Regions from separate parts of the Homo sapiens genome. Here region 2 is linked to region 1. A link means that fine-mapping ties the variant in region 1 to the expression of a gene that starts in the linked region. Tissue or cell type: whole blood. Region 1 holds a variant in brackets; the other region holds the start of a gene. All regions are shown on one strand. Distances are between the middles of the regions.

Region 1 (8,109 bases):
TGGCTTTCAGAAAGCAATGCATTATTTTCTGCAGAAGTAACTAAAGACACGTTCTCTGAGCCTCCAGTGATAGGCCATGTTAGCTGGAAACAATAATGGTGGTTGTATTTCTGTTGTTTCTATCTCAGCCTTTCTTTTTCAGGCTGCCATAGAATTATTAAATGGTTTGAGTCAAAATCAGGCCTGAGCCTTTCAGAAGCCTTTCCTTAGACAAACACCGCTGGTAACGCTTTAGTTTAGCCTTCTGACAAGTGGGTCTCATTACTCCACCCATGTGCCCTTCCCCTCTGCTCCCATTCCCCTCTCTTGGATAAAAGCCTGGGGAGGAGTGAGAACTGCTTTGCCCTGTGCTCTTGGAGCAGGGCCTTTCTCTCAGGATACAAAGCCCTTGGGGAAGCAGGCAATTCTGCCCATGATGCTTCTGATGCTTTGGGTGGAAAAGGTTGCCACCCGAGAGCCTGGTTTAGGCACCACTCCAGCAACACCCAGGAATCAGCTGAGTGTCCCCCAGCATGTCACCTCCACGGTGAGGGTGTTGGACCTGATGACCTCTTCTAGATCCATTTTTAAACATTTCTCCAAGTGACTTTAGCACTACCCAGTAGAGGTTTCTACAATGACAGGAATGTTCACTAAAGGCTACCCTGTACAATAATGGCAGCCACTGGTCACGTGTTGCCTTTGAGCACTTGAAATGTGAATGGTACAGTGCAGAAAGACTTATTTCATTTAATTTTAATTAATTTAAATTTAAGGAGCCACAAGGGGCTAACGGCTACCATATTAGACAACACAGGCCTAGGCTACTGGATTCTGTATGTTTAAAACTGTGTGTTCCATCCATTCTATCTAGAAATTATACCACATCCACCCATGTCTCTTCATTTCCACAGTATCCACCTTAAGCTGAGCCACCAACATCTCTTTCTTAGGAAATGACAATATTTACTCCTTGGTTTCCTTTCTCTAACTTTAGCTCCCTCTGATCCGTTTGCTACAGTGAAAAGTGATCTTAAAACAAAAATTGACCAAGTTACTCTTCTCCTCAAAATCCTTCAACAACTTCCCCACTGCAGTAAAATTGAAAACCCCTCATGAGGCCTGCAAGTGCCTGCATGCTCTGAGCCCTGCTCCCTTGAGTGTCTGCACAGTCTGAGCCCTGTTCCTTCAAGTGTCTGCACACTCTGAGCCCTGTTCCCTTCAGGCCTCATGCTGTCTCAGTCTCCCCACTGTACCCACCACAAATTAGGCTTCTGGAAGCCATCAAACCCTTTTTCAGTTCAGGTCCTTTGCTTAAACTTCCCATTTGTTCTAGAGCTGTGCTGTCCAATACAGATGCCACTAGCCACATGTGGTTTTTAAGAAATATGTATTTTTTCATTAATTAAAATTAAACAAAACTTAAGATTTATTTCTCAGTCACACTAGACACGTTTTAAGTGCTTGCTAGTCACATGTGGCTGATGGTTACCATATTGGACAGCACAACAGTTCTTTTGGACAGCACAGTTCTGGGACATTTTTCCCCACACTTGAGCTTAGCTAATTCCTACCCATCCTTCAAGTCCAACATTCCATAGAGGCCTTTTCTGACCCTCCACTCTAAATTAAGGGTCCCCGCTTTATTTCTCACAGAACCTGCAATTTTCCTTTTCAGTTCTTCCAACTCTTTGCAAAATTATAGTTACGTGTCTGACTGTTTAATATTCATGTTTCCTATTAAGATCTAAGGCAGTGTCTCTTTTGTCCACCTGTCAATCCTCAGCCCCTGTCTCAGTGCCTGGCACTTAGCAGGAGCTCATTCATGTTGAGTGAATGAATGAAATAATGAATACGTATATAGATGGGTATAGTGGCTAAACATCATTTACTTGCCTAAAGAAACACAAAATCAAGAGTGAGAGCTTAGGAACCACATGGTCCTGAAATAAAACTCTGACTTCCATTCTTATTCTAACCTTTGGGAGCCACTGTCTCCTCATGTAAAAAACGAATGTTATTGCCATCTTAGACTGCTGTGCTGAGGAGTGAATGGGCTGACACAGGCAAAGCCCTCAACATATAATTATAATAGGTGTCATGTGTACATGCGTTTTTTTCTCTTTATCCCCTCTGCTATGTCCTTCTATCCTTCTCCATGGTCCCCTCCCTTCCACGCTGCATCTCTGGACCTGGCCTCTGCGTCTCTCATGCCTCAGGCCCATCCCTCTCTAAGAGATCTTTAGTTCCTGCCAACCTGTCGCAACTCAAGGATTAAACTAAACATTTCTCCAGCATAGAGCACCCCCTATGTTTGGGCATTCTTCACTGTCTTCCCTGTATGTGGCTGTATAAACCAGCCTGAACTACCTTCCCACCCAGAGCTCATAAAGGCAGACTCCAGCCTGCAAATGCTCTCAGAATAGCATTTGCTCAGAATAGCAGGTGCTCTTAACACCTGGCAGAGAGGGGCCCCATTCTCTTTGGGCATTTTCCATCAATTTGTATCTGCAGACCACATGCATCAGAATCACCTCCAGGGCTTGTTTAAAATTCAGATTCTTGGGTCTCACTCTAGATTTATTTAACCAGAATCTCTGCAAGGGGGGCCCTGAACCTGCATTTTCAATAACCAGCTCAGATGATTCAGAGCTCTTGTCAAGCCTTCTCAGGGTATAACATTTAACCCCGGGGAATACTGGGAGGATGGTTCCGATAAGCCACTCACTGATCCTCCTTTAATGTTTATACAATTTCATTTTTACATCAAAAGATCATTTACCAAACACCTACCTAGTGAGTTATTGAGTTTATTACTATTATTTGGAACTCATAAACTCACATGAGGAATTTTGTCAGGCTTAAAGGGGGTGCCAACCCACTCTTCTGCCCAGAGTTACCTGCAGCAGCAAGCCATCCTGCAGACTTCCATGGGGTAAGTGTCCACAAAAGTCACTGGAAGTCCCCATTGGTAGTCATTTAGAAGGACGCAGTGTAATCAAAGGACCATCACTGTTGTCTTGAATGGGTCGTGATTTAAAATTGCTGGTCTTTTTGGTCTTTAATGATAATTTATATTTGTTTCATCACTATCAATTTGTTTTCTATGGGTGATATGGTTCACCCTACAGTATGTAGGCAAGCAGGTTGGCATCAGTATAAACCATGGCCTACACATTCCTAATAACTAGAACTTAAGGCACGCAGCTTGCTGTTCAAATATAAATAACCTCAAAGCCAAAGCAGATGTGTGTATACGTAATCCCTTCAAAATCTGCATGAGATTGATATTTCATCATAGTAAGCGTGTTCATTTCCCACATGAAATTGTAAAGGCAGTGGCTAGGATAGTGGTGCCAGCAGAGACATTTAAGCAGCCCTGAGCCAGGCTCTGAGCAGAGCTCTTGTCATTTTTCCTTTTTTTTTTTGCTTTGGGAAGAAAAAGATATCTTCCCCTGGCACCCTAGGCCCACCTCCTTCAGGCAGAATTGCCAGTTCCTCTGGCCCCTGCCTCACCCCCTTCCAGAGTTCTCTCTACTTAACTCCACCCTCAGGCTCCACCCTTGAAGGGCACAGCCCAGCTGTACTGAGTTGAGGTTTTTCTGACCCTCAGAAATAAGCAGTTAGCAACATCCCCAGCGCCTGTCTTCTTTCTGCTCTTCCCAGGGGGCCCTTGACTCACCACCAACCCACAGGGGAAACCACAGAGCACAGCAGCCCAGCGCCGACTGCACCTCCCCGGAAAAGTTCCTGGAGGTTCAAGAATGGCTCCTCTATGTTGACTCCCTGTCTCATCTCAGGTGCCATGCTGGACTTTTATATACGGGGTCTTAACCCCCCACCACAGCACAAGCCAGCAAGGTGGGGCTTCATGCAAATGAGGCGGCTGAGGGCCAAAGCAGTGTGGTGGCCACCCCTCACCAAACTGAGCCTGTTCCCAGTAACTACTCCCTTTACCGTCCCATGCTGGAGGCCAGCGCCCAGCCAGCTCCTCTCTGTGCCTTTTTTTTTTTTTTTTTGGTTTTTATTACATCCAATCCCATTTATGTGAATGTGCACAAAAACAGCAAGATCTTGCTGGTTTGGAACTAGGACATACTTAATTTTAAAAAATATTGAGGATTATTTACACATAGTGAAATGCATAGCTCTTAAGTGAACCATTCAATGAGCTCTCGGGTGCAGCTGGACCAAGTTAACAACAAAGCAGTACACAGGGGTTTAGCTAAGAGGCCAGGATGAAGAAACTAGGAAAGGAGCCACTCACCCTCACACAGCTGTACCACCCCAAGTTCCCCTTCGCATTCCCACTGAGGGCCTGCTGACATCCTGTTTAACATGACTGTCAAAACAACTCTTGTTATGCTATCTCAGCCATGTTTATGAGAGCAAAACCACTTGGGAGTAAGCCAAATGTCCATTAAATAAACTACAGTGCCATCCATACAATAGAAAATACCATTGAGAAAGAACATTAATAGACACGGAAAGCTGCCTGTTAAAGGCACCTCATAAAACACCAGTGTTAACAGTTGTTCTGAGTGTCCGGATTATGGGCAACTATTATATTCTTCTTCTGATTTGCCAGTACTTTGTGCAACAAATGTAATAGTAAATAAATTTTATTTGTTGAAGGTGCTTGGCTCTACATTGTTACATCTGGAGGAACAGGGTGTACACAGGAAGTGTAGAAACGCTACAACAGCAATCTCCCTGACAGAACTGAGATGAGCAGCGGGGAACGCCTACATGCCCTAGGACAGGAATCTGTGGCTGGCTTTCTCTGGTTCAGAAGGTCTTACTCTGTGCAAGAGCTTGCACACATATCTCATCATTTGGAGGAAACTAACTGGTTAGCACCCCAGGCAAGGCTGGCTGTTCTCA[C/A]TGCCCCTTCCATGTGGTTTACTGCCTCTATGGTTTTGTTCTTCCCACTCCCTCTTGCTGAAGAGCCCTCTGGCATGGCTCAGCAGATGTAAAGTCTATCCATACTGAGGCAGGATAATGGCCCCTCAAAGATGCCCCAATCCCTGCATCTTGTAAATATATCATGTTGCATTGCAAAAGAGGCTTGGCAGATGTAATTGAGGTTACAGAATTTAAAATAGCCAGAGTACAGCTGGGTACGGTGGCTCACGCCTGTAATCCTAGCACTTTGGGAGGCCGAGGCAGGTGGATCACTTGAGGTCAGGAGTTAGAGACCAGCCTGGACAACATGGCAAAATCCTGTCTCTACTGAAAATACAAAAATTAGCCAGGTGTGATGGTGCATGCCTATAATCCCAGCTACAGGGAGGCTGAGGCAGGAGAATTGCTTGCACCCAGGAGGCGGAGGTTGCAGTGAGCCAAGATTGTGTCACTGCACTCCAGCCTGGGTGGCAGAGCAAGACTCTGTCAAAAAAAAAAAAAAAAAAAAAAGCCAGAGTAGCCCAGATCATCCAGGTGCACCCAATCTAATCACATGAGCCCTTAAAAGCACAGAACTTTCTCCCGCTGGAGTCAGAAGAGAAGTGGCAGAACTCAACAGAAAGATTGGGAGCGTGAGAGGGACTTGACCCCCATTGCTGAAGGCTACGTGGAAAGCATGAGGAGAAGGTGGGCAGCCCCCAGCTAACAGCCAGCAAGGAAGTGAAGACCTTAGTCCTACAACTGTAAGGAACGGCCAACAATGAGCTTAGAAGCAGATTCATCCCCAGAAACTCCCAAAAGGAACACGGCCCTGCCAAAACCTTGATTTTGACCTCGTGAAACTCTAAGCAGAGGACTGAGTAGAGCCACATGTACCCACACTTCTAACCTACAGAACTGTGGAATAATAAAAATAGGTGTGATTTTAATCCATTAAATTTGTGGTCATCTGTTATGGCAGCGATAGAAAACAATACACTATCCTTCAGGATCAATGCAAATGCCACCTCTGTGAAACCTCCTCCAATTCCTCCCTCCATATACGTGAGCGTTCCCGTCTCTGAATTCTCCAAACACTCTTCCCCAGGTCTCTTCAGCCACCACCGTGGTCCACCTGGTCTTAGGGTTATTTGTGCACATGTTGTATTTCTCCTGCTAGATAGACTGCGAGCTACTTGGGGCAGTATCTGAGGCTGATTCATCTTTATTTTCCTTTTAGGGCATTGCAGAACGCTTCATACGTAGTCAGAGCTAAATTTTTGTTGGAAGGATGTCTTCCTACCAGTAGATGGATGTTTATTGTTTAATAAAATGAATCTCTATGGCAATTAGGAATTAAAATATGGACCCCGGAAATATTTGCAAATATAGAAAAAAGTAGCCAGTGATGGATACTGACAGCATAAGAAAAACTAGAATGTGCAAAAGTAGGATATCTAAATCTTTTTGATGCTTGGAATCTGACTGCTGTGGCAGTTGGTCCTAAGATGTACATTAACACAAAAAATAAATAGGATTACAAGTAGGATTCTAAAATATAACCTCTTAAAACTTCTAGCAACATGGAAGTTTAAGGAAATGAATGTTCCTCTGCTGCTTCAAATAGATAGAAATGTTGTAGAAACTGTAATATAATTTTTTAATATCCAGCTGAGCTCAAAATAAAGAAAAGGAAACTCTCAGATTCCAGAGAAGAGAAAACTCCAAGTCAGACTGTCAAGAGCAATGGCTGAGCAGTCCAGTGGGCTTGGGAACAGGACATCGGTCCTCATGGCTTGGCTTAGGGATTTAACATCCACAGGTGAAGATGAGATGTTCTCAGGCTGATGGAGGTAGAAAGCTGAACTTCTATACCAAATAGTACCTATGGCATAATAAGAAACTTCTATTTGGTCTTCATCCCTGGTTCCTGATAGAGAATTCCTAAATTGCTTGGAACTTGCTAGGTGATAGGAGTATCTTTTGTTCCAATGAGGTTACTTTTGGTGGGCTTCTAGACAGCTTCAGAATGGCGACTGGTTACCAAAAGGACCAAGCCTTGATACGAAGCCTAGAATTTTTAGCATCACTCTACCCTCCCACACCACCCCATCCTCCCCAGGAGGGAAGAGGGGCTGGAGATTGAGTTAATAATAGAGTGTGCCTATGTGATCCAACCTCCATAAAAAACCTCTAAACGATGGGGTTCAGGGAGCTTCCGGGTTGAACACATCCATGTGCCAGGAGATGGGGGCACCTCAACTCCATAGAACAGAAGCTCCTGCACTTAGGACCCTTCAGACCTTTTCCTATGTTCCCTATATGCCTGGAACTCATCTGGTTGCTCATTTGCATCCTTTATAATAAGCTGGTCAATGTAAGTAAAGTGCATTCCTGAGTTCTGTGAGCTGTCCTGGCAAACTATCAAACATGAGGAGAGAGGCATGGGAACCCCTATTTATAGCCAGTTGGCCAGAAGTACAGGAGGCCTGGCACTGAAGCAGGGGCAGTCTTATGAGACTGAGCCATTAGGCTGTGAGGTCTGTGATAACTCCAGGTAGTTAGTGTCAGAATTGATCTGAACTGTTGGACACTCTGGTGTCCAGAGAATCAGAGAATCGGTTGTAGTGTTGGAAAGCACCCTATGTAGAGTACCCATGAAGAGGGGAGAGAAAAAACTATTCATTAGCCTGTGGAAGCAGCAAGAAAGCATTGTATCTACTCAGAGTTCTTGGGAAGAAAAGAAAACAAAAAGTTTATATGAAAAATCAAAATTCCAGGTGTGGGGTCTATATTTACCCAGCACACATGGTAGAAGCTCACCTTTGAACTGATAAAAAGGCAATAAAAGCACAGAAGACACATGTGCTCTATAGGGAATCGTTCCCCAACCCACAGAGCACAAGTTCACCACAGGAAACGGAACACTCATTGAGAATAAGCTTATAATGAAAAAAAAATGATCTATGTGAATAAATATTCCACATTGAAGGAAAGAATTAGACTATGAGAACTTGTAAAATCTGTTAAAAATAAATTGTACTTAAAATGTTAGAAAACACTTCTGTGAAGTTCTTACTACATGGTAAGCATTGTTCTAAGCATTTTACTTGTTTTAAAGAGATGAAAGAAGGAGTAGAACACAATGATAAAATACAATAAATGGAAAAGGAAATAGTGTCGATCATCACATACGAAGCACTACCAAAATTCCCCATGCACTGGCACTTGGTAGAGCTACATGAC
Region 2 (8,109 bases), 85 kb before region 1:
CCAATAGTTCTTGCTTTTTGTTCCTCTCCTTCCTCCCACCCTCCACCCTCAACTAGACCCCAGTGTGGTATATATTTTATATGAATGTGGCACATTTATCCATTTACTCGGTGAAGGACATTTAGTTGTTTATAAATTTTTGCTGCTACAAATAATGTTGCCATCAACATTCTTAAGACTTATCTCCCTATGCACATGTGCAAGAGTTTCTCTAGATCACGCCTTGAAATAGAATGGAAGGAGATAGGTCATAGGACATGCACATCTTCAGCTTCACTAAGCAATGCCAAACTGTTTCCCAAAGTATTTGTGCCAGCCTGCACGCCCATCAGCATTTTATGAGAGCTCCCATTGCTCTACATCCTCACCAACCCTACCATCCAACTTTTTATTCTTGCCATTTTGGTGGGTATGGAGTGTTAGTGTGGTTTGGCATTTCTCTAATTACTAATGAGATGCAACATGTTTTCTTGCGTTTATAGGGCATTCATGTAGCCTCTTGTAAAAGACATTTTTGTAGCTCTTGCCAAGTTTTTTTCTATTGGAATGTTTGTCTTTGTTATCGATGCACAGCCATTAGTTCTATATTCTGGATGTGCTTTCATGGGTTTTTGTGTATAGGAAATATCTTTTCACTCACTTTTGTATTTTTAGTTGAACGAAAGTTTTAAATTTTGCTAGTGCTAAACTTAGTTTTTTTCATTTTTCAGTTTGTGCTTCTGACGTCTTGTTTAAAGAACTCTTCCTGACTTTGTGGTGATATATATGCAATCTCTATTGCAACTTCTGTATATGTCAGGCTTCCAAATTTCCTGGCTATTTACTGTGTTGTTATTCTGTTGGTCTCTGTGCCAAAACCATATTAACCACTGTAACTCCATAACAATGTCCACTAGGGCAAGTCCTCTTCGCTTAGTTGTTGCCATTGCTATGTTACTGTTGTCCTCTTCTCTTCTCTGTTCTCCTTTTTCTGCCCTCCTTCCCCTTCCACCTCTCCCTCTCCTCCTCCTTATTCTTCTTATCTTCTTTCTTCTCCTGGAATATCTAAGCTTTTTTTTACTATTGCTCTATAAGTTATACATTTTAGAATCACCTTGTCAATTTCCATGGAAAACCTTATTTAGATTTTGATTTCAATCATATCTCTCAATTATTGAATTTATCAATCATGTTGTAAAGAATTCACATGTTTGTGACAAGGAATCCTTCCACAATGGAACATGGCATGTCTCTCCCATTTACTTAGAACTTCTTTAACATCTTTCTATAAAGTTTTATTATTTTTCACATAAAGATCTTGCATATCTTTTGTCAGATTTATCCGTAAGTTTTTGTTCTTTTGAACACAGTATCTTTTTTGAATATTATCTTTCATGACCTTTTATTGCTAGTCTATAGAAATGCTCCATTAGTTCCTTTTTTAAACAGATAGATTTCAACTACTCAAGACTGAGACGGGAGTAGATGTGTCAACACGCACTTGGTAAATTAGATATTCGGAACAGACATTCAGCAGTAGACAATGGCATGGCCGTACTGATTACAAAATTCTTGAAATACTTCCATAATGGGGCCCCTTGATTTCTTTCCTGTCACGCTGGCCATACTGACCTCTCTCCGGGGACAGGCTCAGATCTCTCCAAGGTCCAGACGCCACTGTATTAACACCAGGCGTGGCACGGGGCCGCAAGCCTTGCTCCACTAGGAAGGCCAGTGTCTGTTCCGGGTGTTTGATTCTCATGCCTTGTGAGTTGTTAAATATCTTTAATATTACTCCTTAGGTTCGTATGTTGGTAGTAGCTAAACACCAAGGGTGAAATATTAATCTGAGTGAATTCTCAACAAGAGATGATCAGTTTTGGGGTTCAAGGAGGGAGTCGGGAGATCTGAGATGTAACTAAGGAGATTCTATTCAGCACTGGCCTCTGATAATCCCCCCTCCCCTGAAATCCCTGCAGCTTCACCACACTCCTCTTGAAGCTCCTGCAGGCACTTCAAACGCAACACGTTTTAGATTGAACACATTATCTCTGTCTGCTAAATCAGCTCTCTCTCTGCCTCCCCTAATTAGTGGAAGAGCTTCTCCAATGATCTTATCCCCTATGGTAGAAAATTCAAAATCATCCTAGACTGTGCCTCACCCTTATGTCCTCTTTTTTTTATCACATACCAAGATCTGACAATTCTATTCCATGAAAAAAATCTTTTGAGTCTGACCTCTTCTCCAATCCCATTGCAGCTGTCTCCTAAGTTTTGGAATAGTTTCCTAAATGGTCTCTTGGCCTCTGTATTCGTCTGTTTTCACACTGCTGTGAAGAAATACCTAAGACTGGGTAATTTATAAAGGAAAAAGGTTTAATTAACTCACAGTTCTGCATGCCTAGAGAGGCCTCAGGAAACTTACAGTCATGGCATAAAGGGAAGCAAACACGTCCTTCATAAGGCGGCAGGAGAGAGAAGTATGAGGAACCAAGTGGGAAGAGCCCCTTATAAAACCATCAGCTCTCACGAGAACTCACTCACTATCATGAGAACAGCATGAATGAAACTGTCCCTATGATCCAATCTCCTCCCACCAGCTCTCTCCCTAAACGCATGGGGATTATGGGGATTACAATTAGAGATGAGATTTATGCGGGGACACAAAGCAAAACCATATCAACCCCCAACCTCTTTTGCCCCTCCAACACTGCTCTTGGCATTCCAGTTCCTGCCTGGTCCATAGCCTACTCCTTCTTCATCTGTGGAAGGGAGGGTAGTGGGAGTCATTAGCCTGGGCAGGGAGGAGTGTTTTATCACTACACTGTTTAGAATGGTGCCAATACAAAGCACATCAACTTTCAGCAAGTTTATTATTGGGTTTAAATTCTCTACACACGATGCACTGCTTTTGCCTACACCTGGACAGTGTTCCCACTCACTCTCCTTAGTATGATGCTGGAGATAATATGATCTGCCATGAAGGTTAAATAAAGCAATGTTCACTGAGAACTTAGCCCAGGCCCCTGCACATGCTGAGCATTTTGTTAATGTAACAATGATTAGTAATAGCATTGCTATTGGTTCCCCATCTCTGGCAAAGCCTTTCATGCTTGGCCTCCCTCACTCTCTTTCACCTTCCTAAACCCTACACTCCAGCTATGCCAAACTGTTTACTCTGCCTTGGACACACCAAGTTCCTCAAGCCTTTGCAAATACTCCTTACGCTCCTAGAACAATGGATGTCAATTCATCATTTAGGATCCAGCTTACAGTCATGCTTTCCATGAAGCCTTCCTCAAATTAGCCACACAAAAGGAGTGACTCCTCCCTGTATTCCCATGACCCTCTGCTCATGCCTCCTCTTTAAAGCCTGCCTTCACTGGAGTTCCTGGAAGGGAGAGTCTGTTCAGCACTCATCTCTGTATCCACAGTCACCAAAATTGTAACTGCCCCATAATAAATTCCCAATACTTGCAGGGATTTTGCTTCTTGGCTTGTTTTGTTTTGCTGGAATGAATGAATAAGTAAATGGGAACGATTTTGACTTCACCCTAAGCCTAGCTAAAAGTTTGGGTAGTGACAGTTTTGGTTATTTTGTGTAACCTGATAGTGGATCCCCTTTCTATGCCAAAAAAAAAAAAAATCCCCCAATACTAGAGTACCTGTTTTCCTAGGGAATTGACCTCAGCAACTGAAGGAGAGGCGATTCAAAGCAGGGAGTGTGATGAATAGGTCAACTCTGTCCTCGCAGCCGTCCCTGAGAGGGCGCTGTTCCCAAATCGAAGCCCCAGAGGCGGAGACTGAGACACCGGCACTCTCCCACTGGACTGGGTCAGCATCCCTCTCCCCGCGCGGCCGCAGGTCTAGAGCTGAGCGCCTGCCCACAAACATGGCGGCGCCCTGCGCGGCTTCCCGTCGCCGCAACCGTGGGGCCGGCCCTGCCTTGCCAGTACTAGGGGACTTCCTCTGCGCGCCGGCTTCCTGCCCAGCTGGCATTTAAACCACCGCCTGGGGCTGCAGGATGCTGCTGCGGATGCAGAGCTGTCCGCGGGCTGGGCAGCGTCGCCGTCTCCCCTGAGCCGCCTCGGTCCGGCAGGAGCGGAGCCGAAGCATCCCTTGCTGCACGCAGGGCAGAGCAGGCGAGGGCTGGGGGCCGATCGGGGACCCCGGCTTGGGACCCCGGCATCTGGCAGTTTCCTTGCAGGTTCAACTTTAATTGCCAAGATTTCACCCCTCCTCCTCAAGCCCAGATTATTTATCCTCCCTCCGGCCTGGGCTGCTGGATGCAGCAGCGGCTGGGCTTGGTCCCAGGAGCAGGGAGAGTGCGCTCCCGGCCCTCCTAGCCGCGTGCCCGGGCCATGGTGCGGCTGAGCCCCGCGCTTGGGTGAGGCGGCGGCGCGGCTCGGAGCCCGGCGGACCGGTCCTACGGGACATCTTCCCCTGAGGAGGAGTCTTCCCCTGGGGCTGCGTGCCGGGGGCGAGCGGCGGCCGCGATGTTCAGCTGGCTGGGTACGGACGACCGCCGGAGGAAGGACCCCGAGGTTTTCCAGACGGTGAGTGAGGGGCTCAAGAAACTCTACAAGAGCAAGCTGCTGCCCTTGGAAGAGCATTACCGCTTCCACGAGTTCCACTCGCCCGCCCTGGAGGATGCCGACTTCGACAACAAGCCCATGGTTCTGCTGGTGGGCCAGTACTCCACTGGGAAGACCACCTTCATCAGGTGAGCCGGCCCAGGGTCCTGGCAGCCCACCCCGGAGCCCAGCGCCTAGTCCCTCCGGTCACTCCTGGTGCTCCATCCCAGACAGGGGACCAATGGGAAGCCTTCAGTTGAGGGCTCTGAAGAGATCTGTGTTTGTGCAGGCGTCAAAATCTTACCCCACAATTTTTGCTGGTCCCCCTTCCCATCCTACCCAATACCTGTCCACTCTACTTGGCCCTTGGCTGTGGTGGTCAACCTGAAGTATTCAAGTGTAAAGCCATTCCCAGTCTCCCCATCTTATGGATGATGAAACCGAGGCCCAGGAGGCACAATGGAAGAGCTCCTGGTCTCTGGAGCGCCTTATGTTGGTGGGGATGTCTTACGTCTTCACTTTTTAGCAACACATCATTCACGGGCAAAACCTCTTCCCTTGTTTTTCAAGGGGCTTGGCACTCACATGGGGGCCTCACAGTTGCAGCTGAGTTCTGATGGGTGCGGGCCTGGGAACGGAGGTGGCCTGGGGATGCTACTTGTCCTCCTTTTATCATTTCCTTCTCTAAAGCAGAGCTCCTGTGTATATATCTTGGAGACTCAACAGAAGCTGAGTCCAGAAGCAGAATGCTTTTTTTTTCCCCTTTCTCTTATTTGATCTTAATGGCTTAATAATAATATTAAAGACGCTTAGAGATGGAAGGGATATTGGCATTGTCTCATCCAGTTGCTGAGTTTGCAGGTGAGATAACCGAGGCGCAGAGAAGTTAAATGAATTGTGCAGAGCCATCTAAAGAGTGGGCAGCAGACCTGGGATGTTAAGTCCTAGATGCATGTGAGGAGATGCTTGGCTAAACGCCTGTAACTCTGAGAATGAGTCATCCATTCCCTTCAATTACAGAATCCTTGGGCTGGAGGGAGGCTCAAGAAGTCAATTTGTTCACCCTGCATTCAGAGAAGTCCACCAGAGGCCCTTCTTATCTTTAGAGAACAGGCTTCACTCCAGTCCTCAATCTTCCCAACTTCAAGGCCAGCCATTTTCTTGGCCCCTTTTATAGCCATTCCAAATTGTTGAGAATGCTGTGGCCCTCTGTCTTAAGACTCAGGCTCCCACAGCTTGAGAATGGAGTTTGGTGGCCCCCCAAAGTCAAGTGTGCTCATCTCCTGCAGAGGGTTTGGAAAGCAGGGGTACCCTTATTCCTATTCCTTGGCTGTTTGAGCATCCACAGCATGTGAAATGCTGTGCTTTGTTTGGTGAGGAGTGCAGAAAAGTTAACAGTCTAGTTACTAATTTTCTAGGTACTAATTTTCTCTAACATCCACCTTGTAACGCCAGCCTTCTGGAAGTAGCACCATGCTAATAGGTCATGTCTAAACACAACACCACATTGAGTTTGTCCTTGTGGAGTGCACAGCCTAGGGCTCAGCAGCTTTAAGAGGCCAAGTGATTTCTGAAGGAGTTTGGGAGGTGATGGGCCTGTTGGCTCTTGTATGTTTTATATTGATAGAACTGCAAGAGGCCTTAGAGATTAAACTAATCCATTGCTTCTTAACTTTCTATCTTTAGAAAAATGTACGTACATCCCAAATTTGCATATAATGTTGGGGGTCCAAGGGCCTTCTTTGGACTTTAGGGTGGGAACCCCTGATCTAAGCCATGCTTCTTGTTTTATTAAGCACCCATTGCTGCCAAAGGCACTTCAGAGCTGCCTGGGTTGCCTGCAGAGTTTCCTTTGTGAGCCCTGGCCTCCACTTGGCCCATTCATGCCTCAGGGGAAGTTCAGGCCATTTGCAGATGGCCCTTGCCCTCTCAGCCTTCCCTGGCTCTCTACACATATGGTATTTATAACCTTTCATACATTATCTGTAGCTTCTCCTTCCTGGTGTACAATCATTGACAAGACAACATCCATGCCTTAGCATCTCTGGGGCCTTGCCCAGGGTCTCGGCTATAGGAGGTTCCCAGTAGACATTTTGCAGAATGGGAGGGAAGATGGGGAGAGGTGAGGATCCCCAAGCAGCAGACAGGTTTGAGCGCCTTTTGTCTGAGACACTCTCCCGGCTTTGCCTAAGTCATCACTGGCTGTTAACTGGGTCTAAGAAAGTGGCAGAGTCAAATTGCCACAGATGATTCCTCATCTGAGGGAGACAGTAAGACCGGGAGAGGCAGATCGCTCTTCTTTCTTATCCTCCATGTGCAGTAGTTCCCTCTCCCCACTCATGTCAGCAACTGAATTTAGCTCATGCGTCAAAAGCTGTCTCCCCTTGAGGGAGTGTCAGCCAGCGCTGTAGGAGGGGTCATACCACAGGGAACCCTCCAGAACCAAATCATGTACTTTTCTTCTTTCTCATAAAATCCAGTAAACAGTTGTTTTTAATTGGAAAATATAGAAAAGAATAAATTTAAAGAAGAAAAAAAGTCACCCATAATCCCATGACTTAGGAGAAGCTATTTTAATTTACATATAAAATATATTTATATATAAAGCATATAATTTATATATAAATATATTTCCAGTATTTGTAGCTATTTTATAGCACAGTTGAGATCATGCTATACATATAATTTTGTATGCTGGCTTGTTTATTTTTGTTTTTGTTTTTGAGATGGAGTCTCACTGTGTCACCCAGGCTGGAGTACAATGGCACAATCTCGGCTCAGTGCAACCTCCGCCTCCTGTGTTCAAGCAGTTCTCCTGCCTCAGCCTCCCAAGTAGCTGGGGTTACGGGCACCCGCCAACACGCCTGGCCAATTTTTGTATTTTAAGTAGAGATGGGGTTTTGCCATGTTAGGCAGACTGGTCTTGAACTCCTGACCTCAGGGGATCCACCCACCTCAGCCTCCCAAAGTGCTGGGGATTACAGACGTGAACCACTGCGTCTGGCCAGTTTTTCTTACTTATAGCATGAACATTTCCTATGTTATAAGCGTTATTTGTCAGCATTATTTTTAACAACTGCATACTATTTCACTATTTGTATATACAATTATTCATTCAACTAATGAATAGCATTGTTTTTAACAGCTGCATACTATTCCATTGTGTGTATATACGATTCTTCACTTAATCTACTTCTCTTGGATGTTTTAGGCTATTTCTAATTTTTTGTTATTGTAGAATAATTCTGAATATCTCTGTGTATAATATTTTTTCCTATATTGTGTGTGTGTGTTTTTTTTGTTTGTTTTTGTTTTTGTTTTTTTGAGATTCCCAGAAGTGGAATTGCTAGGCCAAAGGTTGGGCAGGGTTTTGTTTAAAATATTTTTTAACTTTAAAATTTTTGTACTAAGAGTCATATTTTGCAGTTGTTTTCCGAGAGGGTGAGTTGACACTGCATCCCTTCCCCATTGCGAGTAAGGCTGCTCTGGGGTGGATAAGTGCGTCCATGCCTAGGTCTCAGAAGGCCTCCTCCTCTCCCTTCTCCCATCCCTGCTT

The links. PIP is the estimated chance that this variant, and not a neighbour inherited with it, causes the effect.
Region 2: it holds the start of EHD3, and the variant in region 1 is fine-mapped to the expression of EHD3 in whole blood (INTERVAL, PIP above 0.99).

The regions. Positions count from the first base shown.
Region 1 is chr2:31,315,248-31,323,356 of GRCh38, forward strand. No RefSeq gene overlaps it. Among named protein-coding and RNA genes, the nearest start is that of EHD3, 85 kb to the left of the region's middle. RefSeq lists a silencer at 3,539-3,608. The variant C/A (reference allele first, on the strand shown) is at 4,864.
Region 2 is chr2:31,230,147-31,238,255 of GRCh38, forward strand. EHD3 (EH domain containing 3) reads left to right here and starts at 4,006. Exons shown (of 6, transcript NM_014600.3): 1 at 4,006-4,702. The coding sequence starts at 4,476. It also overlaps a transcript of CAPN14 not described here.